Regions from separate parts of the Homo sapiens genome. Here all the other regions are linked to region 3. Evidence: fine-mapped expression QTL. A gene starts in region 3. Each other region holds a variant in brackets. All regions are shown on one strand. Distances are between the middles of the regions.

Region 1 (8,107 bases), 180 kb before region 3:
ACAGGGAGCATCTGGGGCTCCTTTCCAGGTGGGTGAGTAAAGAACGGGGTCTCCTGACAAGCACAGGACAGTTAGATGAGCATGTGGAAAGCAAGAGGGAGAGCTGCAGCCACCGCTGAAAAGCAGAGGAGGGTATCAGATCTCATCTTTGGACGATGATGACTGGCCTGTCTTTCCCATTAGGCTCTGAGTACGTCGGAAGTGAAGACTGAACTCAGTGTCATCTCTGCATTCTCAGAGCCCGATCCAGTGCCTGGCACGTAGTGGGTACATGCCCAATTTTGGGTCTTTCAAATAAAAATACTGCACATAATCTGGTGAATTAGTTTCTAATATAACCACATTCTAAAAGTACACATACACAGAAATTAATGAATTAGCCATTGAGCAAATTTCAGTTTCAAAAACTACAAGAGGGTTTCAATACTTCTTAGTGTCTTCATAAAAATATGAGAAAGTACGAGAAAGTACTGAGATGCTCAACTGTAGGGAAATATAGGTCTTGTGAGATGCAAACCTTCATGAAAACAATTTTTTTAATGTTATTCGTTTTTATTTATTTATTTATTTATTTATTTTTGAGATGGAGTTTTGCTCTTGTTGCCCAGACTGAAGTGCAATGATGCAATCTTGGTTCACTCCGCCTCCCAGGTTCAAGCAATTTTCCTGCCTCAGCCTCTCCAGTAGCTGGGATTACAGACATGCGCCACCACACCTGGCTAATTTTGTATTTTTAGTAGAGATGGGGTTTCACCATGTTGGCCACGCTGGTCTCAAACTCCTCACCTCGGGTGATCCGCCCACCTCGGCCTCCCAAAGTGCTGGGATTATAGGTGTGAGCCACCATGCCCGGCCTATTTTTAAGTTTTATTTCTCCTTTTTTTTAAAATGTGCTAAAGTGGACACAACATAAAACTTACCAGTTTAACCATTTTTAAGTACACAGTTCAGTGGCATTAAGCATAGTCATAGTTGTGCAACCATCACCATCATCCATGTCCAGTACTTTTTCCCTGTCCCAAACAGAAATGTTGCACCCATCAAATGTAATTCCTGGCTGGGCACAGTGGCTCACACCTGTAATCCCTGCAATTTGGGAGGCTGATGCGGGCAGATCACTTGAGACCAGGAGTTCAAGACTAGCCTGGCGAACATGGTGAAACCTCATCTCCACTAAAAATACAAAAATTAGCTAGATGTGGTGGCTGTGCCTATAGTCCCAGCTACTTGGGAGGCTGAGGCAGGAGAATTGCTTGAATCTGAGAGGCGGAGGTTGCAGTGAGCTGAGATTGTGCCACTGCACTCCAGCCTGGGTGACAGAGCGAGACTCCGCCTCAGAAAAAAATTTGTAATTTCCCAATCCCCCTTTGCCCCAGCCCCTGGTAACCTCTCACCTACTTTCTGTCTCTGACCTTGCCTATTCTAGGAACCTCATATAAGTGGAATCACATAGTTTTTGTCCTTTTGTGACTGGATTATTTCCACTCAGCATCATTCCTCAAAGTTCATCCTTGTTGTAACATGTGTCAGAATAGTTACTGATTAAATGAGTAGCTAAAGGTCTGAATCAAGGTAGAGCCAATATGTTGATCACAGTCTTAGCTTACGTGCATGAAAGGTAAACAGAATAAGTGACATGTATTATTATACTCTGTTCTACATAGTAAGAAAGGAATATATATTTCAATATTATAATACTTTTGCCACTTAAGAGAAAGCATCCTCTTTTTCCATTTCATCTCCAACAGATGAATTATTGACACAGATCATAAAAGTCAGTCAGGTAGCAGACTGGGAAGAAAAACACTTACATAAAAATCCTTGGACATCTTCTGGACAGCCGTGATCTGGCCAGTCAGTATATTGTAAATGCCACACCGTCCTTTCTTGCCCAGACAAAAGGTGCTTGACCTTCAAGCCCGTGGTTGCATAGCAAACAGAATCCGTTCGAAACTTCGTGGTGACCTTGAACTTGCCATAGGTGGCTGAGCTGTGCTTTGAACCTAGTTTGGGCCAGTATCGGTGGCTTTTGGTTCGTCCACCCTCCTAAATCACATATAAAAGCAAAATTGGAAATAGGTCAAGGGAAGCTCTCATCCTTTTAATCCTAAGATATGAAGACAGAAGAAAATGCAAATAGCTTCTAAATCGCTAGTTCAGTAGCACTCTGCAGTGTCTACCACAGGGTAGATCCTATACATGCTAGTTAAGACCAATAACACAATTTACAATGACAGTTACATCAATGGAAAATTTAAAAGATTCACAACCGAGGTGCAGTAGAATGTTAGAGAGAAGTGCAAGTGCAGTCTAGAAGCAGGAACAAGCTTCGTGCATTCAAGAAACAAAGGTCAGCCGGGCGTGGCGGCTCACGCCTGTAATCGCAGCACTTTGGGAGGCCAAGGCGCGTGGATCACAAGGTCAGGAGATCGAGACCATCCTGGCTAACATGGTGAAACCCCATCTCTACTAAAAATACAAACAATTAGCCAGGCGCGGTGGCGGGTGCCTGTAGTCCCAGCTGCTGGGGAGGCTGAGGCAGGAGAATGGCATAAACCCGGGAGGCGGAGCTTGCAGTGAGCCAAGATCACGCCACTGCACCCCAGCCTGGGCAACAGAGGGGAGATTCCATCTCAAAAAAAAAAAAAAAAGAAAAAAGAAACGAAGGTCTTCGGGGTGGCTGGAGTGTGACATGTGAGGGGCCAGGCGATCAGAGAGGAGACTGGAAAGGCCTCACAGTCCATGGTGGAAAGTTTGGATTTCATCCCATGGGCACGGGAAGTCATTCAAAGGTTTTAAACAAGGCGGGAAGGGGTTCCAGCAATCGCTGTAGGTCACGTTACTCCTTTCGGATGTTCAGCGCACAGCTCTTTCTGTTACAGCACACTGACTACCGATGCTGTCTTTATCTAGTGTCGATTTCACATTTGTTTCAGCCTGACCAATGCGTTTTAGTTCAATCTACAACTAGAACTGAGAACAGCTGCTTACATCACCATTCTTTCTCCCTTGATTTTATAAACTTTTCTGAGAATATGTATTCTCAACCATTTACACAAGGTCTATGTTTCAGCTTTGCACCGTTTTAAAATCTCTGGAGAAGGGGCGGAGTGTGGAGGAGGTGGTAGCTGAGGAGATTCAGGGCAAGGAGTAGGTGGTGAGAGAGAAGGAGCACTGAACACATACAGCTGCAGTGGTGACAGGCTCTGGGAACCCTGATGGCTGTTTACAGGAACATTAGAGTTCCTCTTGTAAAGCCCACTTGTAAAGCAACACATCTTTGCGGAATATGTAAATTACCTTGCCTGGCTTCATTTGGTTTAATTGAGTCTCCTTAAATTGGAAGCATACCTTCCTCTTTTATTTACCAATCCTGTGAAAGCAGATTTACCTCGAATTTACATTTCTGCTGAGTGTCTAAATCAGTTATGGATTTTAAAAGACTATAAGTCCCCAGCTGTCCCACAGATTACTAGATGCTACTTTGTCTTGGCAAGGCTGGCTCCTTGTCACTCCGGTCTCACCTCCAATGCCACTCCCTCAGAGGGTCCTTGGCCACCCCCCTGATCTAAAGTAGACCCCAG[T/C]CACTCTCTTTCTTAACCCTTTTTCCATTTTTAAAAATTTTCTCCCTTGAATTTATGCTACTATTAATAAGGTTTTTACTTCCAGCCTTCCAGCAAGTGTGCAACATGATACAGAGCCTGGAGCTCAGGGTTGCACATCGTGAAGCCACCCTTTAGTAGGAGTCCCCTAGCGTGAATGACAGTTTTGCAGCTGAAACCCACACAAAGAGGAGGAGGGATGAGGCAGGAGGACCTGTACTCACCCAGACCCACTCTGGACTATAGTTTTCCATTTCTGCCACGGCACTTACTGCTATCTGCACTGATTTTATCTGTTCACTTTTGAATGTCCCTCCCACTAGGACATAAGCTCTATGGGGACAGGGATGGTGCCTGTCTCGTTTACCGTGTACTCCTGAAGTTAGCACAGATGGTATGCTGTATTTAGGTGAATGAATGCCTTGCAATGGTGTGAGCTGATAAGGTGATAAATCTATTCTAGAAGCTTTAAGGAGGATTCATTCTCTTTGTGGGAAGGTCAAACAGGTCAGCCCAGGGAAGTACAACTGGCTTTAAAGAGCCTGATGTCCCTTTCATTATTTTCTTCTAATGGACTGTGCTGAGAAGCAAATGCTCAACACAGTCAATGAAGGAAAATATGACTTTTTCCTCCCCAATTTTCTTTGTTCCTGACCCCTTTAACATAGCTAGGAAAGGCCACTGCAATACCATGGATATTGGTAAACACACATGAAACTAGTCCCTTGAATGATTTCAAAACATAAATTGGAATTTAATGAAAGAAATAAAAGAAGGTGGTTAAAGAAATTTTGAGAATGTGACAAGAGAAGAAATACAACACTTCTCCCCACAAAGACAGCAAGCTCAACACCGACTGGATTGACTGGCAGTGTAGGCTGGTTTTTTATAACATCACATAGAGTTCTCTAGTTACAGCAGAAAAACTATGTTTGGCTTGGCAAAAGAAGAAAAAGATATTTTTTCTTCCCCCAAAGAACAGAGGACTCTCCAGGAACAACGGCTTCTGGTCTCTTTTCAGCTGATAAGGATGATGGCATGTGGAGCTGGGTGCCTGGAGTTGGGCGTCTATGTCGATTTGCCCAGAGCAGCCTGAGACTCCCAAATTCCAGTGGAAAGATCACTGTTTTCGTTTGGCACAGAAAGTCAGCAGGTTGAACTAAAGTCTGTCATTTTTGGTTTTCTGTTGTTTTATTTTCAGTTTAGTGCATTACAATCCAAGGAAAAGAGTTAAAAGCCAGATGAAAATGGGAGGAGGAAAAGCTACAACAATCAATTATCTCCAGGGGAAAAAATATCTATCTGGAAGTAAGAAAACAGATGTATACCAAAGAGAAAAGCATGTGCAGAGAAACAGCACTGCAGGAAGAAGGATAGGGTAGCAAAGTTGACAGCACAAAGCCCATCTTCTGGCCACCCTTTCCCCTGGGGAAAAAGGATGTGGAGTAGGCCATTCCCCTTACCTCCTCTGCAGTGACCATGGCAATCACATTCACTCCCTGCTCCCACACCATCTGCCAGAAGTCGTGGCACGTGTGTGGCAGGGGCCCCTGGGTGGCTATGTAGTGCCATTCTGCCCCGCCAACCACCACCTAAAAACCAAGAAAAGTATCGGTAAATAAACCCCAAGTCCGGACAACATTACCTGCTGATCACCTGTCCATCTGTATCCACCTTAAAACCTTGGATATATTTTTGGGGCCGAATGAATTAGTTCAATGAACAAAAACCCTGAGACTACAGAGGCTAGTGTAGTGACACATTCTCACATGAAAATACTTTTTGCCACTCAAGCCTATTAAATATTTATCTAATCCTGGTTTTTGAGACTGAGTCTTGCTCTGCTGCTTAGGCGGGAGTACAGTGGCACGATCTTGGCTCACTGCAACCTCCGCCTCCTGGGTTCAAGCAATTCTCCCGTCTCAGAATCCCAAGGAGCTGGGATTACAGGCACTCGCCATCATGCCCGGCTAATTTTTGTATTTTTGTAGAGATGGCGTTTCACCACATTGGCCAGGCTGGTCTTGAACTCCTGACTTCAGGTGATACGCCCATCTCAGCCTCCCAAAGTGCTGGGATTACAGGCCTGAGCCACCAGGCTTGGCCTTTACCTGATCTTTGTTTGCAACTCACAGTATATGCAAACTAGTGCCTATTAAAAACCATACACATACACACATGTATAGATGCATATATATGAACATGTATAACTTAGGATTTACTTGTTACAGAAATAATAGTTACTGCTTACTATGTGCAATGTACTCTAACACTTTCCATTCTTTTCTCTTTTCTAGTCGATTTCATTGAAACACACACACACACACACACACACACACACACACACACACACACACACACCTGGTCATGACCACTAAACTGATTTCACATTCTACCACTGTGTTGTAATCCAGTTTGAAAAGCAGTGCTTCATGGCATCCAATTAAACAATAAAAAAAAAAAAAAAGATCATGAAACAACATCCCTTTTGGAGCACTATCTTTCTCCTGTGGATCTGAGATGAAGTGTATCATAAACCTCTGCTGTCACTGCTGCTCTGTGGTGCCATGCACGGCAGAGATGCTACGAATGCTCTTGTCAACAGCATATATTTTATCAATAGCTTCACCTTGGTAGTACCACAGCATCCAACTGAACTACAGTCATGACATGACTTTGGATAATAAAATTATTACCCCTGCAGCTCAGGGTGATCAGGGGAAGATAATTCTACAGCTATAAATACTAGCTGCTGAGAACCATAAATAAGAAGTTGTACCCAAAGTGTTAAAGGTCATGCTGTCAAGGTGAAATGGTGGCCTTTGGAGGAATTCTTTCTGTTCTCCCTTCCAGGTCTGTGCCTTGATATTGCAAAGTCAGGTCCCTTCTACATCTATACAATGCAGATCTCTGGAGAGTTCAAAAAGTAATGAAGTAATCATTGTTTGAAACTTTTTCCCCTCATTTATTTGATAAAACTGTATGCTAACTTGGTTCAAACAAAAACAATGTAAGTTATTGTCTCATTACACAAGGCATGTTTAGGTCAAAGCTGGCAAGAAAAATCCATTTTCCAAATACTGGTGGGAGATAACATTCATATATTTGCTGGCTAGGAGTTTGGTTTATCCGTGGAATTGTGATTTTAAACATTAGCCTCTCTGGCACCCAACGTATAGGAAACATAAATACTTCCAGAGAATGCTGCTGCTGCCTGGGGCCTTTCAGTATATTCCAAGTATTGACAGAAGGGTATTAAAAACTGCATTAAAAACACAACAAGCAGTGCTGCTGAGGTAGATTTCACACATGTGATTCCACCTCTGGAGCAAATAAATCTCTGTTCTGTGTTAACGGCTGCTTGGAACCCAGGGGGGAAAACACTGGCAAAATATACTCCTCTATTCCAAAACACAGGGACAAGTTCTTGCAAGGTCCACGGGTCTATGAAATGCACCCATGTCTAACCCGGATCCACAGGATGAAATGTGGGCCACAGAGAATACCAAGGAAGGGAATGCTCCTCGGTTAACAATGCCCGATGGGCACAGTTTATACAAAGTGACAGCTTTTTTCAGAGAGCAGATGGAAAATAGTGGAAGAGATCTGGCCAAAAGAAGAAGATAATATAATATTTCTATGTAAGATTTTCATAGACACTCTATCAGGAAGCAGCTGTGTGATCTGCATCTTTGTTGGAATACATTACTTTGGTCATTGTTTCATAATGTAAACTAAGCCCATGAAACCCACCACTGACAGTTTATTTAAGAGTTTCCTAGAGTTCACTTTTTACTTCTCACTCTCAAAAATCCAAGTTAAAATTAGTAATATGATCTATGATAGTTACTCTTTTATATTTCTTTTGACAGTACTTTCTAATTATTAAAAACTATGGTTATCTGTGTATATTAATAAAAATAGTATATACCCAACCATACTATACTTTTCCCATTCTGTATCAAAACTAGTTATAATTGATACACAAGCTAGATATCTAACTCGCCTTTTACAGGCTTAAAAAAACCTGTTAATAATTCTGCTACAGTTGAAAAGTCCAATGAGGAAAGTAAGTAATTCTAGACAAGGCCGAAAACAGGTTTCTAAGGCTATTGATCACAGTGGACTATCAATTGAACCTTGTGTTATTTAACAACACCTATAACACTGGCTTTAACATTAATAGATGAACAAATCTCCCACTTCAGAGTTCAGAGCAAATGGTGACATTCTAAATAAGTGTCCCTCTGTTAACAGGGACTCTGAGGAAGGTAAGCTATTTAAGAAACATTTAACTACAGGTACACATGTATCCATAAGTCAAAGTTTTAACTGCAGAAGTGCTAAACTATGTAATACTGACATATAAAGGTTTGAAGTATTTGAAATAACAACAAAAATTTAGTAACACAAATTCATTGACTAATGTGGCAAATCTTTCAAGATTCAATATTAACCACACTTTTATAGTGTAGGTGAAAATTACTCCACTCTTCTAAATACCA
Region 2 (8,107 bases), 110 kb before region 3:
CTCACCTACTTTAATGCTCTCTAATCAATTATTTATATATTGGGCCAGGATGAAAAGAAGTAAAATGGTTCAGTCCGGTAGTGTGTCTGCTGTGTGTGTGTGTGCGTGTGTGTGTGTGTGTGTTGAGATAAAATGCAAGTATCACAGAGCAACAGGCAACAATATCCGTAATTCAACCCACCATTCTTCTTTAGATGTTCAAAGCTTTAAATGAAGTTCTAATCATATTCTAGTTATAATTATGTTATAATTATACAATGTCCTAAATTAGAAAATAATCATTTTAAACCAGAAAGGAAAAATGCCTGCTTTAGAGTATAATGGTTAAATAGTTCATGAAACCCTTTAAAAAAAAAAGTATTCAGTGAACTGGGTGTAAACAATATAGATTTTCAAATTAACAAGGAAAAAACAAACAATCCCATTAAAAAGTGGGCAAAGGACATGAATACTTTTCAGAAGAAGACATATATGTGGCCAACAAGCATAAGAAAAAATGCTCATCACCACTAATCATTACAGAAATGCAAATCAAAACCACCATGAGGTATACACCACCTTACATCAGTCAGAATGGCTATTATTAAAAAGTCAAAAAATAACTGAGAAAAGGGAATGCTTATACACTGCTGGTGGGAATGTAAATTAGTCATGGTAAATCAGCCATGGTAGAAAGCAGTTTGGCGATTTCTCAAAGAACTTAAGGCAGAATTTCCATTCGACCCAGCAATCTCATTATGGGGTATATACCCAAAGCAATATAAATCATTCCATTATAAAGACACATGCACATGTACGTTCACTGCAGCACCATTCACAATAGCAAAGACATGGAATCAACCTAAATATCCATCGGTGGTAGACTGGATAAAGAAAATATGTTACATATACACCATGGAATACTATGCAGCCACAAAAAATGACAAGATCATGTCCTCTGCAGCAACATGGATGCAGGTGGAGGTCATTATCCTAAGTGAGCTAACATAGGAACAGAAAACCAAATACCGCATGTTCTCACTTTTAAGTGGGAGCTAAACATCTAGAACACATGGGCACAAAGAAGGGAATAACAAACACCAGGGCCTACTTGAGGATGGAGGGTGAGAGGAGGGTAAGGATTGAAAAACTACTTATCAGGTGCTATGCTTATTGCCCGGGTGATGAAATAATCTGTACACTAAACTCCCGTGACACACAATTTACCTATATAACAAACCCACACGTATACCCCTGTATCTAAAATAAAGTTAAAAAAAAATACAGTTTTCTTTTACCTGCCATTTGCCAACTTGTGGTGGATAAAATATTTTGAAACCATATTTTTTCAAGTAAGTGTGAGATTTTTGGTTAAAGACAGTTAGGGCTGGGTACAGTGGCTCATGCCTGTAATCCCAGCACTTTGGGAGGCTGAGGCGGGCAGATCACCTGAGGTCAGGAGTTCAAGACCAGCTGGCCAACATGGTGAAACCCCTTCTCTAAAAAAATTAGCTGGGCATGGTGGTGGGCGCCTGTAATCCCAGCTACTGGGGAGGCTGAGGCAGGAGAATCACTTGAACCCGGGAGGCGGAGGTTGCAGTGAGCCGAGATCGCACCATTGCACTCCAGCCTGGGCGACAGAGAAAGACTCCGTCTCAAAAAAAAAAAAAAAAAAAAAAAAAAAAGGTTTGTCAGAATATTAGCTCTCAGGATAATGCTTTTCAAGTACTCTTAACAAGAGTCAGCACATCACAAAATCATGGGTGTGCTTGTATGCATGCAAATGCAACACACAAAATCTCTCAATGTATATAGTAAGGAAGTAGTCACAGATGTCTGGAAAATTAAGATAACTGCTATCTAGAACCAAGCCTCTCTGTATTTTTTTTTTTTTTTACTTAAATATAGTGTACTTCTAGTTGGTAGTTGAAATCAAGTATTTCATGAACCAGTGCCAGAAATAATATTTTTTCAAATAACTGATAATGGAAAGAAATAATGTTTTCACAACCTTGAATTTTATTTGGCTGAAATTATTTTATTTTTTTCTTAATTTACCTATTATTTCATCTTACACTTACCTAAATGCAGTAAATATCAATAAATCAGACAGTGGCAAAAGAATTACTGAAATCCATATGTAGAATTCTCAGTTTTGCAAAATTCTCACTTTAAAAATTAAAATTCAATCTGTAACTTCAAAGCCTGCAGAAACAGTGGGAAGTTGTGTTTAAGGTTTTAGGGTCCTAGAGTAGTATAATTCAGGCCAGTTTTTATTATTCTTATAGGAATAATAAATTTAATAATAAATAAAGGATGCACAAAAGGCTAAATTCTTATGCAATAAATAGTATTTAATATATCCCCTAAACCTATTTAGGAGATGTATTACTCATTATATTATGCATAATCTATTGTGCATTACAGAAGTTGAACTACCTAGAAGGCTAAAATATTCTGAAAGAGAGGAAATACAATCAAACTGTACAAAATTGCTACAGAAGAACCTTGGATTCTCCATTCTGTTCCTTCTAGGATCCCCAGGAAGACGCCCACAATTTTTCTACTAAATAAGACCACGCCATCTATTCTCTAAATTCCTCAGCCTGAACCAAATGTTTTAAGCTTTGCAACTCTTTAATTCCTTCCCAGTTCCCCAAAATCCCCCCTGAGATTCTCCAACATCCATCTACTAACAGAAAAGACCAGCTACAGCTGAAAAGACATCAGGATACAGTTGTCTTCCATTTAACCAAACTTAAATGATAAGAATCACCCATGGCAATGATCAAAAACAGATTTTGATTCAGGGAGTCAGGACTGGGGTACAATAACCTACATATTTTTTAAAATGCCATAGGCAATACTGATGCACGTAGTGTGAAGACCACACTCAAAGAACCAACAGGCTCCCAATGTCTTATTTTTATTTTTTAAATAACTGTCACTCATCAGGAGTCTATCATCTCTTTAAATAATCTTTCACTGGAATCTGTTTATCTTTTCAGACTACAGTCTCTTCAAGTTACAAGTACTGTGAGATTACCATTGGGTCAGCCTGGCCCGTCCTGTGGCAGCCAACCTGGCTTCCCTGTTCTGAACAGCTGCTCTGACCATCTGGGAAGCTGTGAGGCAAGGCCCGCTTTATCCTGTCTCCTTGCTCGGGCCTGATAACCTTAGCCTTCCTACACTCGGCACAGGACAAAGCACCAGGCCGCGTCCTCTGCAGCAGATCTGCTCCCTCATATGGGACTGGAATGAGGGTGGGGAACCTCCCTGGGAATACATGTCTATGATAATAACACAAAATGTTTGCTTAAATTATTGTTTGCAATTCCACTTTTGGGAATTGCCTGAGGGAATTAGGGACAAATTTGAAGTTATCTTCAATAATATCAAATCATTTGTTTTGAGGGAGTAATTCTGAATTTTGGAAATCGCCAGTCAGTACAAAATTTGTACTCAGTAGAGTTTCTAGTAGGGTATGGTTTACAGTGATTTGGGTTTTACTAATCATTAATAATGTACGAAGCCTCACAGTGGCATTGTAATGTCTCAACCTGACTAGGCTGCACTCCATTTCCCAGAATGTTCTTCCCCTATGTTTCTGGTTAGTGTGGGTCACAGAGAATCTTCTGCCAGGTGACTGATACCAGCACAGCTCTCTGAGGGATGCAGCAGTTTCCTGCTACCTTCTAGTATATCTTTTCATTTAAAAAAAACAAATATTATTTGAAGACCTACTATATGCTAAGCACAATGGCAAATGCTTTCTGAACTCATCCTTACAATAGCTATGCTAGCATCATCTCCTGATTCTAAACACAAGAACTTAATTTTGGGGAGTTTACAGAGCCTGACCAAGAAACAAACACCAGAGAGTGAGGTCTTCAAGTCTGTTCTCCTTCTTTTTCCTTTTTTTCCCCCTACTTCCCACATTAATGTATGTTCTCCTTTGTAGTGTTTTTTTTATTGTTTTATTTCCAGCTATTATTTTCCTTGAAGATTAAACCAAAAAATACTAGTTCTTTGCTGATTCCAACAATCATTCAAAACATACAGAGCTCTAGCAGATACATAACTTGCTTCAAATTTTCCATCAGTATCCTCATCAGTAGCTATCTTTTCACAGTTGGCCATTTTATTTCAAGGATCCAAATTACCGACCTTTTTCATGTTTTCCTTAGTTAGACCTATGGGTTTCTCACATTAGTCACTGTCATAAACATCTATCTTTTCTACCTTCTTCAAAACATTTATGCTGGTCAAAAGCATTTGCTTCCAACATTGCTTCATCTCTGTGATTTTCTACTAAAGGACCATGTGTCTAACTCGCATTTCAGTTAAACTTACGTCAAAGTTGCTGGGATTTGCTCTGAATAACGGTAACTCATTTTTATGCTGGCAGCAAACGTCAGGCGAAATGTCTACTCACTCTCCCCAGCTGCAAGCACAAGATTGACGAGCTGACCTTGAGAGTTAGGAGGCTGTAAACCGAAACATGTTGCAACATGTCCCGCTATGATTACGCCTCCTCTGCTTTTACAAAGTACACCAGAAAGCAGTATCATTATTTGAGTCACACCTGGTAACTTGACACCTGCTGACACCTTTCTACTGTTTACTTGCAATGTCTCAATTTTCCACCCTTCTAAAGGACTCAGTGTC[A/C]TCTGAAAGCTTGGCACTTTCACTATGTGCCCAGGGCTGGAGATCACTGATAAAGACGTTAAATAAAACCCATTTTAGTTCCACTCTCTACATAATGCTCGCTATTTAAAGGACTCACTCAAAGAAGTGCCTGTTTCCCTCTACCCTTTGTTTCTTCTGTCTGAACTACTTCCTTCTCTTTGACAAAACTCATCCCTTCCAATTCCACAGTGTGTCTTAGCTGTTACAGCTAAGGGGAGGGGAGGGGAGGATTGGCAAAGACTTTTTGAACGTTTAAATAAATCCTATCTATGGGCTCTCCCATGTCAGCATGCTTGGTTCACCTAAAACCATTCCAGAACCACCTTAAGAGCCAGGCTTGTCACTAAACAGCTGTGTGACTATGGGCAGAGTCCCTTTATCTGTCTGTTTCTCAGTTTCTTCATCTGTAAAACAAAGCAACTGGTCTCTGTGATTTATTGATATGTGGGGTCTCATATTTAGATATAAAACTCTATCATTCTGGTCTGTCTTGATATAAGGCAAAGGGCTCTTTCTCAAATAGGCTGTGTTTGTTTAAGATTTGAATGATGTCTTTATTGGCCTATAAGACGCTTGGTACTCTTTCTATGCATGAACCTTTTATGGGTAATCAGAGATGAGACAGATATTGTGAGCAATAAAGAGAGGAAATCTGAATAATTTGAGCCATGGCTCTGCAGTAGAAAGTTGACAGGGACATATAATCTAGCCCTCCGGAGTGATCTTTACACAGAAATAAAGTTTTCAAATGAGCACTTAGGGAAGTTATACTCTCACACTCAGCTCAACCACCTACAGTCTCTTATAGGCAGCTAAAGTGTTAATACAGCTGGACACTGAATGACATAAAATCAACTGGGTCAATGAAGAGATATGGGCTGACCCAAGTACTGAGATGCACTTCAAGTTATACAGAAAGTGCAAGTATCGGCAGTCAGGACCTAAATACCTACAAGGCCAGACAGGTCACAAGAATGTGTAAATGCTGCTGACTATTAACTCCCTAGGGAGTGGAGAACTAGGCCCAGTTAGACAGCACATGCCTCTCTGCAAGGCGTCCCAATTCAGTTCTTTCAAAAATGATCCTGGTGAAACAAAACCCACCTGAAGACCAGAATCAGCCCTCATAGTACTAGTTAATAATCTCTGATCTTACTGGTAGGTCAGCCCTCTGGATTTCTTTGTTGACTTTTTATGGAACTAAACTCCCTGTTACTCTGATAAAGCCAGTGAAGAAAGGCATGAACGGATGTATTTCTCTGGCAAAGTAATATAAAAGACTCCATTTATGTGATGACCTAAATCTACTCCACTTGTTAGAGAAAAAACTTCTGTTATTTAAAAAACAAACAGTTCTTTTTCAGGGTGCCCACTTTATAGAGTTCTAGTGAAGACTGAAAAAGATAATAATCTGAGATACTTAGCATAGCATCTTGCACATAAATGTTAGCTGCTACCATGACTACTACTGTTACATTATATCCGGTGATGGAACGCAACTACATTTTTCCACAGAACCACACAGAACTATAATATCCTCAGGCTGGGGAAGTTTTGAGGTTTTGGATTCTTGTGCTTTCTAGATTCTGCTGCTGCTCAGACACTGTAAGTTTCTTTAACGTGTGGATGTAGCACATCTGTCACTTCCTTCCTCTCCACCCACTCCACTCCAACTGAATGTCCCAATGCTGATATTCAGGAAAAAAGGTAGAGCAAACAATTATAAAACATCTATTCTTTGCACCTCTTCCAACGTCAAGATTTTTTTTAAAATCCATTTTTGAAATTGACACACCATTCTCAATCCCACCCATTGTAATGATACCCCTACAATCTTGAGAATCCTTTATGGGAAGCGGATGTCTCTTAAAAATTCATAAGGCACAGCCTGCATGCTTCAACATGACAAAACACCTCTTCATATAGCTTCTGTTGTTTTTCCCCCTTCTTTTCACACCTTTGTTAAAGGTAAACACTACAATGTGGCATCATCGTATTCTACTCAAGCTTTAGAAAAAGTAGACTATTTTAACATTTTGACTCATGCTCTATTACAAATCTTTATTATTTCATGAGTTCAATTGTTTAATCTTTCTCAGTCCTGCAATGTAACACTAATAAAGAACAATTTGGAATCAATGAATGAATGAACAAATGAATGAATGTATCTTTGAAAATCAAGGAATTCACAAAGGATAAAAATCAATACCTCTGCTTAAGAACTTATTTTCAAAATAGCTCAATAGCACATTATTTTTGTTTGCTTTTGAGAAAAGTTCCAAATAGACCAAATACTAACACATTAACCATGTGATTTAAAGATGTAATAATAAAATTATCACTTCTTTGAAGTATACTAAACAGGTTAGTACCCCTTATGCAAAATGTTAGGGACGAGAAGTGTTTGGGATTTCAGATTTTGAAATATTTGCTATACTTACCCAGTAGAGCATCTCTCATCCAAAAATCAGAAATCCTGAATGCTTCAACGAGCATTTCCTTTGAGCATCATGTTGGTGCTCAAAAAGTTTTCAATTTTGGTACATTATAGATTTTGAATTTTTGAATTAGGGATGCTCAACCTATTTTTTTGGTAAACTTTGTTTTTCTAATGGCTAAAACATACGTATAAGCATATCTTGCTTTATAAAGCATCTCAATCAAACATCTCAGATGCATTAAAGAACACAAACATTACATGAAGACTCCTTTTGAAATACGAATAATGCCTCTGATTTATTTCCTTTTGAAATTCTGAGTTTCCTCTTCATTATAGGACACCTACAATAAATAATAAGTTATGCCAAGTGATATTACAAAAGAACACTGATTTATTTTACTATTTGTTTTCCCTAAAGGGAAAGAATATCAGAGAAACAGCTAGATTATGTTTACGGCTAAGTTAACTTCGGCTAAGTTAACTTCATCTTATTTGTCTATACTTCATTGTTCTAGTAGCAGTAGGTTGCCTCAATAGCTAACTACCTAACTGCATAGCTTTCTTTTTTTTTTTTTTCTCTTTGAGACGGAGTTTCACTCTTGTTGCCCAGACTGGAGTGCTATGGTGCGATCTCCGCTCACCACAACCTCTTGCTCCTGGGTTCAAGCGATTCTCCCGCCTCAGCCTCCTGAGTAGCTGGGATTACAGGTATGTGCCACCATGCCAGGCTAATTTTGTACTTTTAGTAGAGACAGGGTTTCTCCACATTGGTCAGACTGGTCTCGAACTCCCGACCTCAAGTGATCCACCCGCCTCAGCCTCCCAAAGTGCTGGGATTACAGGCGTGAACCACCGCGCCCAGCCTAACTGCATATCTTTCACACCATATCTTTTTCTTAAGAGCAAAGAAAGAAACAAGAAGCAACTTCATGTATTTGGACAACTTGTACTATGAAGTAGGCATCTACTGTATAGTCTTGATTTATAGTCTTCTTCACA
Region 3 (8,107 bases):
CAGATCCATTTTGCAGATGAAGAAACTGAGGCTCAGAAGGGCTATGACGTCCATCCAACATCACACAGCTAAAAAATGGCAGCGCTAGAATTCCAACCTAGCTATATTTCAAACTCCCAAACCTGGACCGCCTGCTCCAGCACACTGACAGCCAGGAAAAGCTACAGAATTTGCCACACATACCCCTTGGACCACTCAATAAGCCCTCCATGGGATGCATACAGAGGAAGCGTAAATTAAATCAATTTAAATCCGTAAGGGGAGATCCAAAAGCGTATTTTAACATTAACTTGAACCTCCTCCCTACCAAAGCTTTCGTGTTTGTTTTCCCTCATTCCTTAATTGGCTAATTAAGTATTTCATCTTGTCTTTCTCATGCCTTATCTCTAACAAAGCTCACAGCACTGTTCTCAGGCTTAAAATGAATTTTTTAAAAACACAGCATTTGGTGACTAAGTAATGAAGCTCAAATGCAAGAATTTGATGAAATCCTTGTTCAAAAATGACAAGAATATGGAACCCAGGGGGGCTATAATATGTAATCAAAGGGTTGATGTTTGCTTCCCCGGAGCAAATTTAAACCTCTAATAAGGAAGGAAGGCACTGGAAAATAAAAAATCCTCATAGTTCTTGACACTTAGCCCATCCGTTCAGGGCAAATAAGAATTATTCTAAAAATTCTGATTTTTCTCTGAATTCCTTATGGTGCTTCCCTATTAAAAGCCTAACTGTCCTTTCTATTACAGCTACCAGCATGACACAGTATGCACAAATCTGAATAACTCAAGTGTTAATAATAATTACATGTTTAAGCCAATGATGGAAACTGGGCAAATGTCTGGGATTAGTGGGAGTGGGCTTCTCTTCAGCCATTTCTCTCATGCAGGTCCCTACACCTTCAGGAAAACTTCTGTGAAGGGGCTGTTCCTGAGATAAGAAAAGATGCTGGTAGAGGGGCTTGGATAAACACCCAAAGTTGTAGGAAGTCAGTGTGTTCTTCCCACTCTGATGTACTGGCCTGAGGTCACCAAAAGCTGGATGTCTGCCACCTCAGCCAGGACTCAGCCACTATGAACAATACTACAACACCACTTCAGTCCAGTGAAGAGACACCCTTGAAAGGCAAACCACGTACAGAATGCTACTGCATTGTAAGAAACTTTTCTAGGCAGGATTTGCTGAATCCTGGGCCATTAGTCTACAAAAATGTGCAAGATAGTGTTTTCTATTTTCATAAAGTTTCAGAGAAAAGAACGACTTTAGCACAACTGTGCTAAAGCAATAGTAATGACTTAAAAGCAGAGAAAAGTATAACAAACTTAGTGACATACAGATGAACGAATTTTGCACCTCATGGCCACCCATTCAGACTGGGCAAAAAGGGCATCATGCCATTCAGCTCCCGCTCATTAAGGCTGTCATTTCTATGGCACAAGCTTCAACCTCATCACCAAACAATTAGCTAACTTTATAATACAAGGTCCGTAATGCTGCGGTATTACCACACCTACGGCTGTCAAACAGCCTTTTTAAAAAAGGAATCATTGCTTGAATGTGGGGGACAAAAAAGAAGAATCAATACCATTTTAATGAAACCGAGCATGGGCCAATTAAAATGTAGATGATCATACAACAGCTGCTTGTGGTAAAACAGCAGCAGGCATGGAGGTGTATCCAATTAGGGAGGCCTTGGCTCCTCGGTAAGCTACTTGTGGTTCCCATAAGTGGCTAACGTGCTTCTAGATTTATTTCTGATATTGGGGGTGGAGAGAATGCTATCCCAGCAACACTGCACCAACATGGCCATAAATGCCCCTCAGGCCCCCAGATGGCTAGGGAAACTTTCTGTCCTTCTTGTGTTCACTCTGCACGAGCTGTTTCCTCTGCCTGGAATACACCCTCCAGAGGAGCACAACCTCTATCCTCTAAGTGTAGTGCACCCTTCACCAGGACCAAGCTCGCCTCAGACTCTCACAGAACCCCTCTTCCATGTATTATCATTCTTCACCGGCCTTCAAGTTTCCTCCACTAGGCTGCAGACTCCTGCCCTGTGATCTCATTTAGCATCTTTCTATCCTGTTCCTAGCAGAGTAGAAGCTGGGTTTGTTGGATGAATGAGTAAACTAATCCATTTCAAGAAGTTAACACATTGGTGGAAACTCTGTAACTGCCCGCACCTGCAGTCTAGAGATTCCTCACCTTCACAAAGAACCTGCGACAGCCAGTCCCTAGACTTAAGCGGAAACCCCACAATTTCTGAAATTGTAGGTGGGGATGAGAAGGTTGGAGAACAAGAACCCAAGGAAGTGAGAGGGAAAGGGAGATAGGGGCAGCGTTACCTCACTGCTCTCTCCAAACGAAAAGGTGTAAACCCCATTTACAAGTATTCAAACCTGAGATCTGGGGGTCACGTGGGGAAGGAGAGGCTGTTAATACCTACAACTTTGGAAGTTTGAGGTGAAGACCTGATCTGAAATTGTTTGGCCACAGCTTTTTTTCTACGAGCCAGCTCGACCACCCAAGTAGGAGCCTCGACGCCCAGGAGTTCGGTGGCACCACTGGGGCCTAGTGAGAGGGCAGGAAAACTCCGCTCCCCTCAAGATTCCTTCCCGGTGGTGGTGGGGTGTGATTGGGAGCGTCGGGCAGCTGCATCCCCCTACCGCTGCAGCGACCGCGACGTCGTTCGTCTTTCATCCTCTAGCCCCCAAGGTCTAGGTATCTCTAGTTGCCCTTCCGAGGCCCTCTCTCGTTCCCAAAACGCAGAAGGGAATGGAGAGAGGGGACCAGGGTGTGGGTTTAACCACAAACTCCCCAGACTGCGCTCACCTTCCAGCTCGCTCCCGGGACCAGCTTTGCGCCTCACCGCGGGCAGCTCCCACCGCGAGATAACACCCCTGCGGCCCGGCCACCCCGCGCCCCAGGCTGCCCTGCCAGGCGTCCCGGGGCGCCAATCGCAAGTTGGCGTTGCCAGCGTCTGCCCAAGTCATCTGCAGGGCGCCCGGAGCGCCAAGGCGGCCTCCAACCTCGGGCCCAACTCCCGGCTTGGACGGGGCTTACCTGCTTACATGGCCCCCGTGGCGCCCCGGAGTCCCGCGCGGAAAGGCTGTCCTTCGCGGCGGCGGAGCCGATTCCCCACGGAATTGATTCCAGTGACTGGCGGAGGAGGGGCGAAGGGAAGGAGCCGCAGGAGGCGAAAGGGGAGGGAGGTTTCCGCCGCGATCCCGGCGCGAGAGTCCGAGCAGAGGCGCACCGGGGGAGAAAAGGAGAAAAACCTAAGCACGGGGCTGTCCCGCCCGAGGAGGCCGGGGAGGATGGCTCAGCTGGGAGGGGAAGGAGCGCCAGTGGCCACTTGATGTCTGTCTAGGGCTCCCCGAGGACCTGAGCCAGGAGAGCAGGCGGCTGAGCCCGGAGAAGCACAGCAACCTGCCCCCGAGTCTGCGCCCGCTGCGCTCACTCCGCCGAGAAAAAGTTGGAAAGAACTTTGAGGGGCCGGGAGAGCCAGAGCGGCAGGAAATGCGAGCGGCCGGGAGAGGAGGGAGGAAGGGGCCGTGCGAGTGGGAGGGGACGGAGCAGGCGCCGGCGGCCACGGCTCCCCCACCCCAGAGCCGGGCTCCGCGGCCCTGGGGGCCGGGAGGCGGAGGGAGCGCTGGGCGCGCGGCCGGGGGCGGGGAGGAATGCGGCCCGGGAGGGCGCGCGCCGGGGGCGCCGCGGGCGCGCGCTGAAACGTGGAGCCCCAGCTCCCGAGCTCCCGAGCTGGAGGCGCGCCGTCCTTGGGGACGTCACAGCGCTGGAATCCGAGGAATGCCGGGCTGCAGGAGCTCCTTCTGCAGGCCCGGAGAAGTCGCACACTTTTAATGGGGTAGTTTTGGAAAATGTTTTAAAAGGTGGGGGCCGAGGACGGAGGACCGGATGAAACTCCCTGGAGTAAGAGACGTGGAAGTGGAGAGAGCAAGGCGACCGCAGCCACCCCAACCCTGGGCTGCTCCCGCCGTTGGGGAGAAAGAGGCAAGGCAAGGAAGAGCCCACCTAGACTTCCGAGGACCGCAGAGACGGGGCGGCGGCAGGAACTTGCTCACCCCGACCTACATTCAGAATAGTCCACCTTATATTGGGGAACCCTCCAAGCAGGACGTTTCATGCAGCCACCCCACAGGGGAAAACAGACCAGGAGAAAGTAAGGTGGCCTCACCAAGTAGGCAATCTCAGAGATCTCTCCCTAGAATCTCTGGGTACTGGACCCGGTGTCTTAGCCTTCTCTCCCTGCCCCCTCCCGCCCCGTAGGAATGATAAAAAGCAGCCTGTGTGCTGAGAGTTGGAAAATGTCGTTTTCCCGGTTTGTTCCATGCCACAGAATCGCCCCACCCTGCCTGGGTAGGCACTGGGAGGGAACTTCCTTAGCACTTTCGGAGGTGGAGTTAATGAGACGCAGCTGGTATGATGGAAAAAGCTCGGAGCCAGGCGACTGAACCTGGGTTTTAGGCCCTGCCCGATTGGATAACTGAGGAGTATCCCAGCCCCTGAGATCCTAGGTTTCTGTAGCTGCAAAATTAAATAATTTGTCTAGATTTCTGTGGTCCTTTGCATTGCTACAAACATGTCTTGGGATTTATCTCGGTAAGATTCCAGTCCTTTGTTGAAAAGGGACCTTGAAGTCGTTGGCACACAATGTATTGTCCCAAATCACTTCAGTGTCCGGCAACTCATGCAAAAATTCCTGGCCTCTTGGGGAAGAGAATTGGAAACCAAAAAGCGCGGTGGCTCACACCTGTAATCCCAGCACTTTGGGAAGCCAAAGCTGGGGGATTGGCTGAGCTCAGAAGTTCGACACCAGCCCGGGCAACACGGTGAAACCCCGTCTCTACTAAAATTCAAAAAATGTTTCGGGGGTGGCGGCGTGCGCCTGTAGTCCCAGCTACTCTGGGGCTGAGGCAGGTTAATTGCTTGAACTTGGGAGGCGGAGGTTGCAGTGAGCCGAGATCGCGCCACTGCACTCCAGCCTGGGCTACACGGCCAGACTCCTCTCAAAAAAATAAAATAAAATAAAATAAAATAAAATAAATAAATCCGTAGTGACTCTGATTTTCTTCGAGCATCTGCCAATCTCTAGAACTGTAAATTAGAGAAAACGCCGAGTGCAATGCAAAAGTGATGGAAAGAAAAGGTTGAAGGGAAATCAACTTTCTCACATTTTAAAGGAAATAGCTGTACAGACGTGCTGGGTTTCCAAAGAAAACATTAGGCAGTGCCTGACTGTGTTCCAGAAAGTGTGGAAAGCACTCCCCCATTCCTAGATGAGGAAAGTGAGGCATGAAGAAATTACCTGTCTCACTGAGGGTCATACAACTAGGAAGATATGATCAGGGCCCTAGTCTGTCAGGCCTAAAGTGCATGCTCTTCATCTCTTTGAAATTGGACCCAAACAGGATTAGGATTAAAGATAAGAAAATGCCTTCAGGATCTCAATGTAAAACTCTGGCCTTTGCTCTTTCCTGGGAGATGGGAGACCTCTTGCTTGGTGTCTTTTCTAGTGAAAAGACACTAGGAAATATATTGTGTTGCTCTAACATCACTGTGCTACCAAACTGAGCACAGCACCCTGAGGCTGTTGTGGCATAAAAGAAGCAGCAAAGGACTTGTTGTCCTTCTTGGGCAGACACAAGGGTTCCGGTTCTGCCTCTGACCAGCCTTGGGACCCTGATCAAGGCACTTCACCTCTAGGCCTGAATTTATTTTCTAAGTAGAGTGTGGCAAAGAGGGCAGAGCTTGGTTGGAATAGTTCATCTCTGAGGTCTTTCCCAGGACTAAACTTCCATCAAAGTACTCTTCTCCAGATAGATGGCATGCCTGTGGAGGAAGCTAAGCAATAAAGCCAGTGGATAAAGCCAGTGTCTGGGGACAGGACTGTTTTCACACCGCCTTCAGATGAAAATGAATGTTGAGACTCCAATGAATGTGGCTGAGTGTTCAATGATAAGTAAAGCTAAGATTTAGCACTAACCCTGTGGACACATTTTAAAAATTTAGATAATTTTACTTACAGGAAGACAGTCTGGGCAACATGGCGAAACCCCAACTCTACACAAAATACAAAAATTAGTCAGGTATGGTAGCTCGAGGCTTGTAGTCCCAGCTACTAGAGAGGCTGAGGTGGGAGGATTGCATGAGCCTGAGAGACCGAGGCTGCAATGAGCTGAGATCACACCACTGCACTCCAGCCTGGGTGACAGAGTGAGATCCTCTCTTGAAAAAGAAAAAAAATATGCGTTATTAACTTAAAAGCCTATAGAGTGTATCTGACTAGCCATATTTCTTTTTCTTTAGAATAGATCACAGAAAGGCAATACAAATAAGAATATTTTCTAAGGCCGGGCGCGGTGGCTCACACCTATAATCCCAGCACTTTGGGAGGCCGAGGCGGGTGGATCACGAGGTCAGGAGATCGAGACCACAGTGAAACCCCTTCTCTACTAAAAATACAAAATTAGCCAGGCGTGGTGGTGGGCGCCTGCAGTCCCATCTACTTGGGAGGCTGAGGCAGGAGAATGGCGTGAACCCAGGAGGTGGAGCTTGCAGTGACCCGAGATCGCGCCATGGCACTCCAGCCTGGGCGACAGAGCAAGGCTTCGTCTCAAAAAAAAAAAAAAAGAATATTTTCTAAATAGAAAGTACAGCTTGAAGTGACAAAAACCTTTCATTCTCAGGATAAATATATAAAAGCTAGTTTCAAGCTTCTTTCAAAAAGAAAAAAGAAACCCATTTCCTAAATCTTTGTCACACTCAAGTCTCCTTATACTACATCAGGGTGAAAAGGAATTCGACTCATGGAATAGGTCCTGAACACATCACTACATGTTTGCTTTAAAGCTTTGCAATTGTAAGAACTTATCAATATTACATTTCTCAAAGCAATTACCAGATTCTTATAAGCCCAATTCAAACTACAAATACAAAGAAGAATCCCGTGGGCTTCCACAATTCCTCCCAGCCCCAATGTGTTCCTCTCATTAATGCATTCATTTTACACCTTCAAAGATGCTGAAGCCACTGAAAGCAGAACAAGTTCCCCAAATCAAAGCCAACTGGAAAGTAAGCCTGCTTTGTTAAGAAAACTCTGATGATCTCTAGGGGCCTTTTACAAATTTTTAAGTTTTATATGTACATGTATGTATATAGTCCAGCTTAATTCCAATTCCTAAAAGGATGTTTAGCAACTTGGAGTAATGGAGAGAAGTGGGAAGCTTTTTCAAATATACATCCTCTCTGAATCCTCTGCTTCTGTATCTTATGCCCTGGGTCTAGGGTAGAGATGGGTTATGGTGGGAGTTGGGAGGAGTGTAATATTTTTAGACAGTGTTTTAGGAAGATACAATTCACATTCAATAAAAAGCACAACTCTTAAGTGTAGATGCAGCTTGAAGACCTTTTCATGTGTATACATGCATGGGGCCACCACCCAGGTCAAGATATAGAAAACGTCCATCTCCTCAGGAAATTCCCTTGTGTGACTTTTTAGTCAGTATCACCCTTCTACCACCATGGATTTGTTTTGCTGGTTATTAAACTTCATATAAATGGAATCATATTTGTGTGTGTGTGTGTGTGTGTGTGGTGTGGTGTGTAATACATATAAATTTGGAGGAGGAGGAAACACCAGAGCTCCTCCTCTCTACACATGTGAGGACACAATGAGAAGCCTGCAAGCCAAGGAGAGAGATCTCACCAGAAACCAACCCTTACAGCACCTAATCTTGGACTTTCAGCCTCCAGAACTGTGAGAAAATTAATTTCTGTTGTGTAAGCTACATAGCCTGTGGTATTTTGTTACTGTTTCGTTATTGCAGCTCAGTCAGACTAATACACCGAGGTAAGTGGTTGCGGGGTAAGTGTGTGTGTGTGTGTGTGTGTGTGTGTGTGTGTGTGTGTGTGTGTCTGCTTTAACATGGAAATAAACTTGAGACTTCAAGTGCCCTGTATTTATATGTGTACCAGGCCATGCAGTACCTAAGTACATGATAGAGCCAAGATTCAAACCTGGACCTTTCTCATTCCAGTTTGTGTTCTTTCTATTCCACCTTGTTGCTGTACAGATTATTCAGCACTGCTGTAT
Region 4 (8,107 bases), 93 kb before region 3:
GTCCAATACAGCACATGTTTATTCTCCCACGTCTACACAGTGCCTCACAGGAAATGGAATCAGAGCCTAGGCTCTCATTTCAACTAGCATGTGCACCAATCAACTTCCTGTGTATTATCCAAGGAACTACTAATCCTGTCAAGCCCAGCTGAGACCCCACCAGGCTGGTTTGTGGTTAACTTGCCAATTTAAACTCTAGCTCAATTTTGAAAGCTGAGCTTAGCTGCTAAACATTGCCACATGGTTGAAGAAAGCATGGTGGATGATTGCAAATAGAAACCACCTTCTCCATGACACCAAGAGGATCCCATCATATTACCTGAGTAAATGCCTGAAATATCTGTTCTGTTTATATCTCAGGCACCAAAAGTAAGCCAGACTCATTTAATCCTCATGATACCTCCTCTGGGTGAGGTATGAATCCCATTTTATTGCTCCAGTTTTCTTAAGAAAACTAGAACACACAGCTCTGGTGCCATGAGTTCTGCAATAAGTTTACTGCAATGATGAGAAAAGAAGACAGAAGAGCCAGTCCTCAGACACAAGAACCACATCCCTGAACCACTTACAAAAAATGCACTACGATGAAACCAAGTAGGGAAAGCCACACTAAAATGTCATTTTTATGTGAGCAGCTTCCTCATTTATTTGGTTTGGTGTACTGCATTTTAACACAGGAAACATACATTTAAGCATATACTAAAAAATCGGCTAGTTTCTTCAGTGGCAGGTTGGTGTGTGGATACTACAGCGTCAAAATGTCCATCTTTTGGTATTATGGAAAGATTCTAGAGAATAAGGGCCCTTAAAAGTAGTTTTGAGGGCAGGGGACATTATGGGAACTCTCCGTACCTTTTGCTCAATCTTGCTGTGAAACTAAAACTGCTCTAAAGAAATAAAATCTATTAAAAAGTAGTTTGGGGTGGTTTTTATTTGTTTGTTCATTTATTTGTAAAGAGATGGTATAATCCCCCACCTTAGCTATTAAAAGGGAAATATTTTTTGAGGGTTTTGTTTTTCCAGTTTTGTGACAATGGCACAGACTAATGCTATTTGTAAGAGGTTTAGATGCAGTCTTGGCAATTACCAAGGATTAAAGCCATGATCTTATCTCAAGCATTTTGAAGAGTTACTCATCCAGAAGCAAAAGTTTAAAATATCTTGCATTAAGTTGTAATAGGTTGCCTATCTTACCCAATATTTCAGCTGTAAATTAAGAAATGGTGTGCTTCCACATAAAATATATGAATTACATATTATACAAGCACGAACAGTTTCACTGAGGCATGGAAAATACTTCAAAAGATGACTATAAGCAGACTCTGAAATAGCACTTCATGCAATTACATTCCAATGGCTTTGGAAAATAAGCCACTGTACATCAGTTGGATAACGGTAGAAAAGAACTTGTGTGTAATCAACCTCTACTCTGGGTAGGTCTGAGATTTCTATAACTGACACATCTATAATTAACAACTGCACCCTCTTCATTTTCCTAGCCAATCTCTTTATAAAAGTACATGAAAAGAAAATGCAGAGTAACACAGACCCAAGAAGCAAGTCCCATAGCCAAGAAAAACCACTCTTCTGAGACTGTACGACTCACCTAGAATACACAGAAAGATGAAGACGTACAAGTTAAGACTGGCGAATAGTTCACCCACAATCTCTATACCTAGAAAATGGAGATGCCGGTGCCATTACATTCTAGGATTGACATTAAGCTAATAATGTTTCACACTGTCATTTTTACAAAGACAAAAAGCAACACAAAACTTAAAGATGAGAAATCTCCCCCAGCAGTCTACTCTTCAGTCGATTCTTAATCAGCATTGATTATTTTAATCCTTTGCAAATACACATATATACTGACGTGATTAAACAAGCTATAAAATACAGCAGAATTCCACTATTATCTGCCAGGGCATGAGGTGTTGCATTTAATTGAGTACCCCCCAAATCCCACATAAATTATTAATTGCCAAAAGATTAGCATGAAATCAAACCACAGAAATATTCTTCATGTAAGTTAACTTTTATGTGATAATAGGAAATGCATGTTAAGTTTCTTATCTTTATAATCTCTAGTCATTATGAAAATAGCAAAATGTGGAAAATTTCTACTGTAGTGATAGCTTTGGGTAAAACAGCTTTTAGTAAAGATCAAAATATAAATTTGCAAAAGAAAAAGGGGATAAATTAGAGGATAAGGACTTACTCTTTGAAATGATTATAGTTTGGTTTTTAAAAGCTTTTTTACACTCTTTTAAAAACCAAGGCTCTTAGGCTTAGCCTTAGGAGAGAGCCGAGAGTTATGAAAGTCACCATTCTCCAGAGCGCTGGATTTCCTCACAGCAGTTCTCTACCTCAAATAGGGTTTACCAATGAACTGAAGGGTATCTCAGGTGCCTTTGTTATATCATTTATCCTTCTTCCACTTGTTAAGTTAAAAGTAGAGCCAAGGTTATTCTAGCATATTTTTACATTTTATTAGGATGCTTATACTCACTATTACCATTAAATGCCCCCTTTGCGTTTCTTAGAATAGCACTGTTCAGCAGAAATCAAATGTGAGTTACATATTTAATTTTAAATCTTCTAGAAGCCACATTGATTTAAAAGTACCAAAAGTGAAATTACTTTTAATAAATATTATTTAAAACACGTTCAAAATATCATTGCAACCTGTACTCAAACATACATATAATTAATGAGTATTTTAGTTTTCTCATACTATGTCTTCAAAATCTGATGTGTTTTTACACTTACCACACATTTCAGTTCAAAATAGCCACATTTCACGTGTTCCATAACCACATGTGGCTACCATATTGGACAGCACAACCTTAAATTAATCCTAGCTGTTCGAGGAACTGAAAGACTTTGCTATTTTAACTCAATATAAGATCACAGTTTCATCTATATCTATATCTATATCTATATCTATATCTATATCTATACCTAGAGAGAGAGAGAGAGATAGAGAGAGAGAGACAGAGAGATTCACTCTGTCACCCAGGCTGGAGTGCAGTAGTATGTTAATAGCTCACTGCAGCCTCATTCTCCCGAGCTCAAGGGATCCTCCTGCCTCAGACTCCCAAGTAGCTGGGACTACAGGCATGCATCACCATGCCTGGCTAATTTTTTATTTTTTTTGTAGAGATGGATCTCACTATGTTCTCAGGCTGGTCTTGAACCCCTGAGCTCATGTGACCTTCCATCTTGGCCTCCCAGTGTTAGGACTATAGTTGTGAGCTACCAGGCCTGGCCCCAGTTTCTAATAATTAAAGTCATCTAAAAATGGAACAAGCAGACTTACAAAAGGGTGACAGCCCAGTCTCTGGAAGTGTCATGGCAGAGGCTGGATGGCTTGGGTGGTGTTTTGCAAAGAAGGCAGCCACATCGAGTGCTTCCTATGCCAGGCACTGTGAGACTGTGGCAACTATGAAAAACTAACTCTCTGAATCCTCCCAACAATTTGTAGAGGTGGCTACTATTACCATCTCCATTTTACAGATAAGAAAACTGAGGCACAGGGTACTTCTATTTAAGGTTACATAGCTAGTAAATGGCAGAACCAGGATTCAAACTCAGGCAGTTTGGTCCAAGCTGACATTCCTAGCCACTAAACTCTGCTGTGTTTTCATGTACTTCTTTTTTAAACCGTGAGAATTAGTCATAAGGCACCATTGTTTTAGCTCTTTTTCCCTTAACCTAGGCTAGTTATTTTCAAACTGAGATAGGGCTCCAGATATCCTATCTCCTCTGTAAAAGGCCCAGCTCCATTTACACATCCATGCTCCACCAAAGATTTGCAGAAAAGGGTTAAACCCACTGATGCAGACATATTATAATGACATTATTGGAATTCTGATTTTCTGAGCTTCCTATATCTCTGGAATTGTCTTTGTTAATAGAGCTCCCAAGCAGCAACTTATCCCTGATTTTTCCCTCATCTTTAAAACAATGAAAACACACTTTTCCTAAGCAGTTCATCTCATGACCTCTTGCCAGGTTTACAGTTGTGCCCACTGGCATCTCTGTTCCTCGCCTCC[A/G]ATCCCCACTCTTTTCTTCTTTTTTTTTTTTTTTGAGACAGAGTCTCACTCTGTCACCCAGGCTGCAGTGCAGTGGCACAATCTCAATCTCGCCTCACTGCAACCTCCACCTCCCAGATTCAAGCGATTCTCCTGCCTCAGCCTCCTGAGTGGCTGGGATTACAGGCATGCACCACCTTGCCCGGGTAATTTCTGTATTTTTAGTAGAGATGGGGTTTCACTATGTTGGCCAGGCTGGTCTCGAACTCCTGACTTCAGGCGATCTGCCCGCCTCAGCCTCCCAAAGTGCTGGGATTACAGGCATGAGCCACTGTGCCCAGCTGATCCCCACTCTTTTCTTTCTTTTTTTTTTTTTTTTGAGACAGTATCTCACTCTGTCACCAAGCTGGAGTGCAGTGGCGCGATCTTGGTTCACTGCAACCTCCAACTCCCTGGTTCAAGTGATTCTCCTCCCTCAGCCTCCCAAATAGCTGGGATTACAGGCATGTGCCACCACGCCCAGCTAATTTTTGTATTTTAGTAGGGACGGGGTTTCACCATGTTGGCCAGGATGGACTCGATCTCCTGACCTCGTGATCCGCCTGCCTCGGCCTCCCAAAGTGCTGAGATTACAGGCGCAAGCCACCACGCCTGGCCGATCCCCACTCTTTTCTACTACTGAGTGCTACTGAGTTCTTTACCTAACATGCAAGGTAACTATGTCATGCTCCTCCTTGGAGTCCTCTGATGACCTTACACTTCACAGCAATGTTTTATTCCCCACATAGTTCAAAAGAGTATTTTCTGGAAGGCTAAGATAACTGTGAAACACTTACTGGAACACCGTTTTCTTTCTTTTACTACAGAATTGAGGAAAGAATGTTTCCCAAAGCATTTTACCATACTCCCTGCTCCCCCACTACAAGTCTCTGGGAACTGGAACAGTGGCGTCAGCTGCCAGGGTTTGAACCGGCCTCACAACTTACCAGCCCAGTGACTGTGGGCAGGTCACCCTATGCTGCAGCCTCCCCATCTGTAACATAGGAACAGCAAGAGTAGGGACACATCAGACTTGTTATGAGAACTACATGAGCTGATATATGGAAACTGCTCAGCAGAGTATATACAATCAAAAGGTGGTAATTATCCTTTGTAACTTATTTTAGAAATACTATCCTATAGATCTAGTTAAAACTCCCTAGGCAGACACAGCAAACCCTTCAAAAGCAGACTCCATCCTGCCCCTTCCTCCTTTACCCTCCTTCCCTTCCATGACCCTTTCATACACACACATACACAACACACACACACACACATCAGTGCAAACAAACTGAACTCTGCCTTTCCCTGAAAATTCCCCTCCACACACACACAGATCAATGCAAGCCAAACTCTGCCTTTCCCTGAAAATTCCAACACACACACACACACACACACACACACACAGATCAGTGCAAACTGAACTCTGCCTTTCCCTGAAAATTCTAACACACACACACACATACACACACACACATACACACACACACATCAGTGCAAACTGAATTCCGCCTTTCCCTGAAAATTCCATGTTCTTTCCTGTTTCTGTACCGCAGCACAAGCAGTTCCCCTTGCTTTGTTTCTTGTTTGTCCTGTTCTCTAAACTCTAGGAGCAAAGACCCTATCTGGTTTCTGGGAGCAGGGACCCTAGCACATTCAGCTTTCCCAGAGCATGACTGTTTGCTGACAATAGGAACCAGGCCTGGATCCTTCTGAAAGCCATGTTAAATAGCAGCATATCATATTTGTCCAAACCTACAGAATGTACAACACCAAAAGTAAGCCCTAATGTAAACTCCGGACTCTGCATGATAATGATGTGTCAATGTAGGTTCAATAATCATAACAAATGTACCACTCAGGGGGTGATGTTGACAGTGGGGGAGGGTGTACATGCACGGGGCCAGGGGTATATGGAAATTCTCTGTACCTTCCTCTCAATTTTACTGTGAATCTAAAATTGCTCTAAGAAATCAAAGTCTTAAAAGTAAAAATAAAGTATTAAAAATTATCTAATAAAATTTAGTGGCAAAACAATTAATGTAAATAAAAAATTTAATAAAAAAATTTTAATCCACCATACATCCTTTCCTAATATAAAGCTATTACAAAATTTATGATATACCTAAACTACTTCTAATGGCAAAGCCAAATATCCACCATAATCTAGTTTCCAAGACTTCATAAAGGCTAAACATATTACCCTGAGCACAGTGTCTCACATCTATAATCCCAGCACTTTGGGAGGCTGAGGCGGGAGGATCACTCGAGCCCAGGAGTTTGAGACCAGCCTGGGCAATACAGTGAGATCCCATCCGTACAAAAAATTTAAAAATTTGCTGGGCATGTTGGCATGTGCCTGTAGTCTCAGCTACTTGGGAGGCTGAGGTGGGATCACTTGAGCTCAGGAGGTTGAGGCTGTAGTGAGTCATGATCGTACCAGTGCACTCCAGTCTGGGCAATAGAGCAAGATCCTGTCTCAACTGGAAAAAAAAAAAAAGATTAAATATATTTTGGCTGGGTGTGTGGCTCACACCTGTAATCCCAGCACTTTGGGAGACCAAGGCAGGAAGATCACGTGAGCCAGGAGGTGGAGGCTGAATGAGCCATGATCATGCCACTGCACTCCATCTTGTGCAATAGAGTTAGGCCCCAACACCCCTCCCAAAAAAGACTAAACTTTTTGTTATATCTTAGATTGGTTGTCACCTTCTCCTCTAAAGCAGCATCGGCTCTATTTGAAAAATGACCCAAATACAAATTCAAGGTATGAGGAGCAGACCTTGAGTTCACCTCCTCTTACTTCTGCTTTTGGATAGAGGATGCATTCTTCTTTAAGGTGTGTGTGTGCAAAAGAAGAACAAAGTATCAGATTACTCTATCTGATCCTTTAATTCAGGAGTATCTAGAGGACTGATTCCCAAAAGGGCACAACTTCAATGTTATCTGTCATGGAAGGAAAGCATAAAATTCAAAAAGAAAGTGATTTGGTCGAATGCGGATGCACCCATTAGGACGTGTCAAAATAAAGTCAGTATTAAACACAAACCCCACCTCAGCAATGGAATGTCAATCACACTACGGCACACACTTGGCAATGCACTGCTTTATTCTTTGTGATAAGGTAGTTGTGGGATGATCCAGGGTTGACTTTTGCCTTCTCACTGAGAAAACCAATAGTCTGTTGAAAGCCATTATTACCATACACATCTCCACACACCTCCCACCATTTGTTATAAACTCTAGCTTGACCTGGTGATTCAGAGGGATGCCTTCTCAGCCCCCAAAATGTTGGCTGCTCTTTCACATCCTTGGATCTTTGATAATCCAGTCCCCCACACTAAAGATGACATGGCCTTCTTTTCTACCTGCTGGACTGATACATGTCCTTCAAGTTTTGGTTCAGAGTGAAGGCTATGTTCATCTTCCATCAACTCTTTCACTCTCACCAGCAAGACTGCAGTGTTCAGTGGGCTGGATTGCACACTGCACAACACTAAGGACAGCCATCGCCTTTTGGGCCTACCCCTGCATTCTATTTTAGCTTGGACCACATTTGATATTAACTGTTTATTTAAAGGCTGGACTCCCCTATTGTTCTGTGCATGTCTTGAAGGTAAAATTGTACCTTATTTATCTTCATTTCACCAAGTTCTAAAAAAGTGCCTGGCACAAGATGGTTGTTCAATATTTTCTTTAACAAAAAATGGGTTTTTTTTAAGTTGTTTATTAAGACTCTCAAATTTGAACAATTATAAATTATTAAACACAGCACTATACATTTTCCATACAGGAACTCTTTTAATATTTACAACAGCCCTGTGAAGTAAGCATTATTATTGCCATTTTATAGGTAGGAAACTTACGCCTCAAAAGACTCAGTAACTTTTCCATTGTCACCCAGCTAATAAATGACAGAAGAGTAAGCTGAACCCAAGACCAAGAGTCCAGTGCCTATACTTGTAACCACATGCTACACTGTCCCCCGATGCATATGAGGAATAATTAGTTGCTCTAATTTGAGTGACTGGAAG

Alleles and levels. Positions count from the first base shown, and alleles are read on the strand shown. Sizes are in standard deviations (SD) of each study's normalised expression. Not every link is listed here.
As copies of C replace A in region 2, the expression in pancreas of the gene that starts at base 3,477 in region 3 goes up (large effect, 1.3 SD a copy in GTEx).
In carriers of allele G in region 4, the expression in cerebral cortex of the gene that starts at base 3,477 in region 3 tends to be lower than with A alone (small effect, 0.28 SD a copy in GTEx).

The links. PIP is the estimated chance that this variant, and not a neighbour inherited with it, causes the effect.
Region 1: its variant is fine-mapped to the expression of PTPN14 in tibial artery (GTEx, PIP 0.93).
Region 2: its variant is fine-mapped to the expression of PTPN14 in pancreas (GTEx, PIP above 0.99). The same link has a PIP of 0.9 or more in skeletal muscle and stomach.
Region 4: its variant is fine-mapped to the expression of PTPN14 in cerebral cortex (GTEx, PIP 0.96).

What each region holds. Positions count from the first base shown.
Region 1 is chr1:214,367,646-214,375,752 of GRCh38, forward strand. PTPN14 (protein tyrosine phosphatase non-receptor type 14) reads right to left here. Exons shown (of 19, transcript NM_005401.5): 16 at 5,066-5,194; 17 at 1,812-2,046. Among named protein-coding and RNA genes, the nearest start is that of SMYD2, 91 kb to the left of the region's middle. RefSeq lists an enhancer at 2,032-2,532. The variant T/C (reference allele first, on the strand shown) is at 3,585.
Region 2 is chr1:214,435,151-214,443,257 of GRCh38, forward strand. All of the region lies in intron 3 of PTPN14 (protein tyrosine phosphatase non-receptor type 14), which reads right to left. Among named protein-coding and RNA genes, the nearest start is that of PTPN14, 110 kb to the right of the region's middle. RefSeq lists enhancers at 3,998-4,969, 4,284-4,623. The variant A/C (reference allele first, on the strand shown) is at 4,648.
Region 3 is chr1:214,548,126-214,556,232 of GRCh38, forward strand. PTPN14 (protein tyrosine phosphatase non-receptor type 14) reads right to left here and starts at 3,477. Exons shown (of 19, transcript NM_005401.5): 1 at 3,058-3,477. RefSeq lists enhancers at 2,140-2,961, 2,962-3,782, 3,783-4,603.
Region 4 is chr1:214,455,076-214,463,182 of GRCh38, forward strand. The region is part of intron 2 of PTPN14 (protein tyrosine phosphatase non-receptor type 14); the gene reads right to left. Among named protein-coding and RNA genes, the nearest start is that of PTPN14, 92 kb to the right of the region's middle. The variant A/G (reference allele first, on the strand shown) is at 4,056.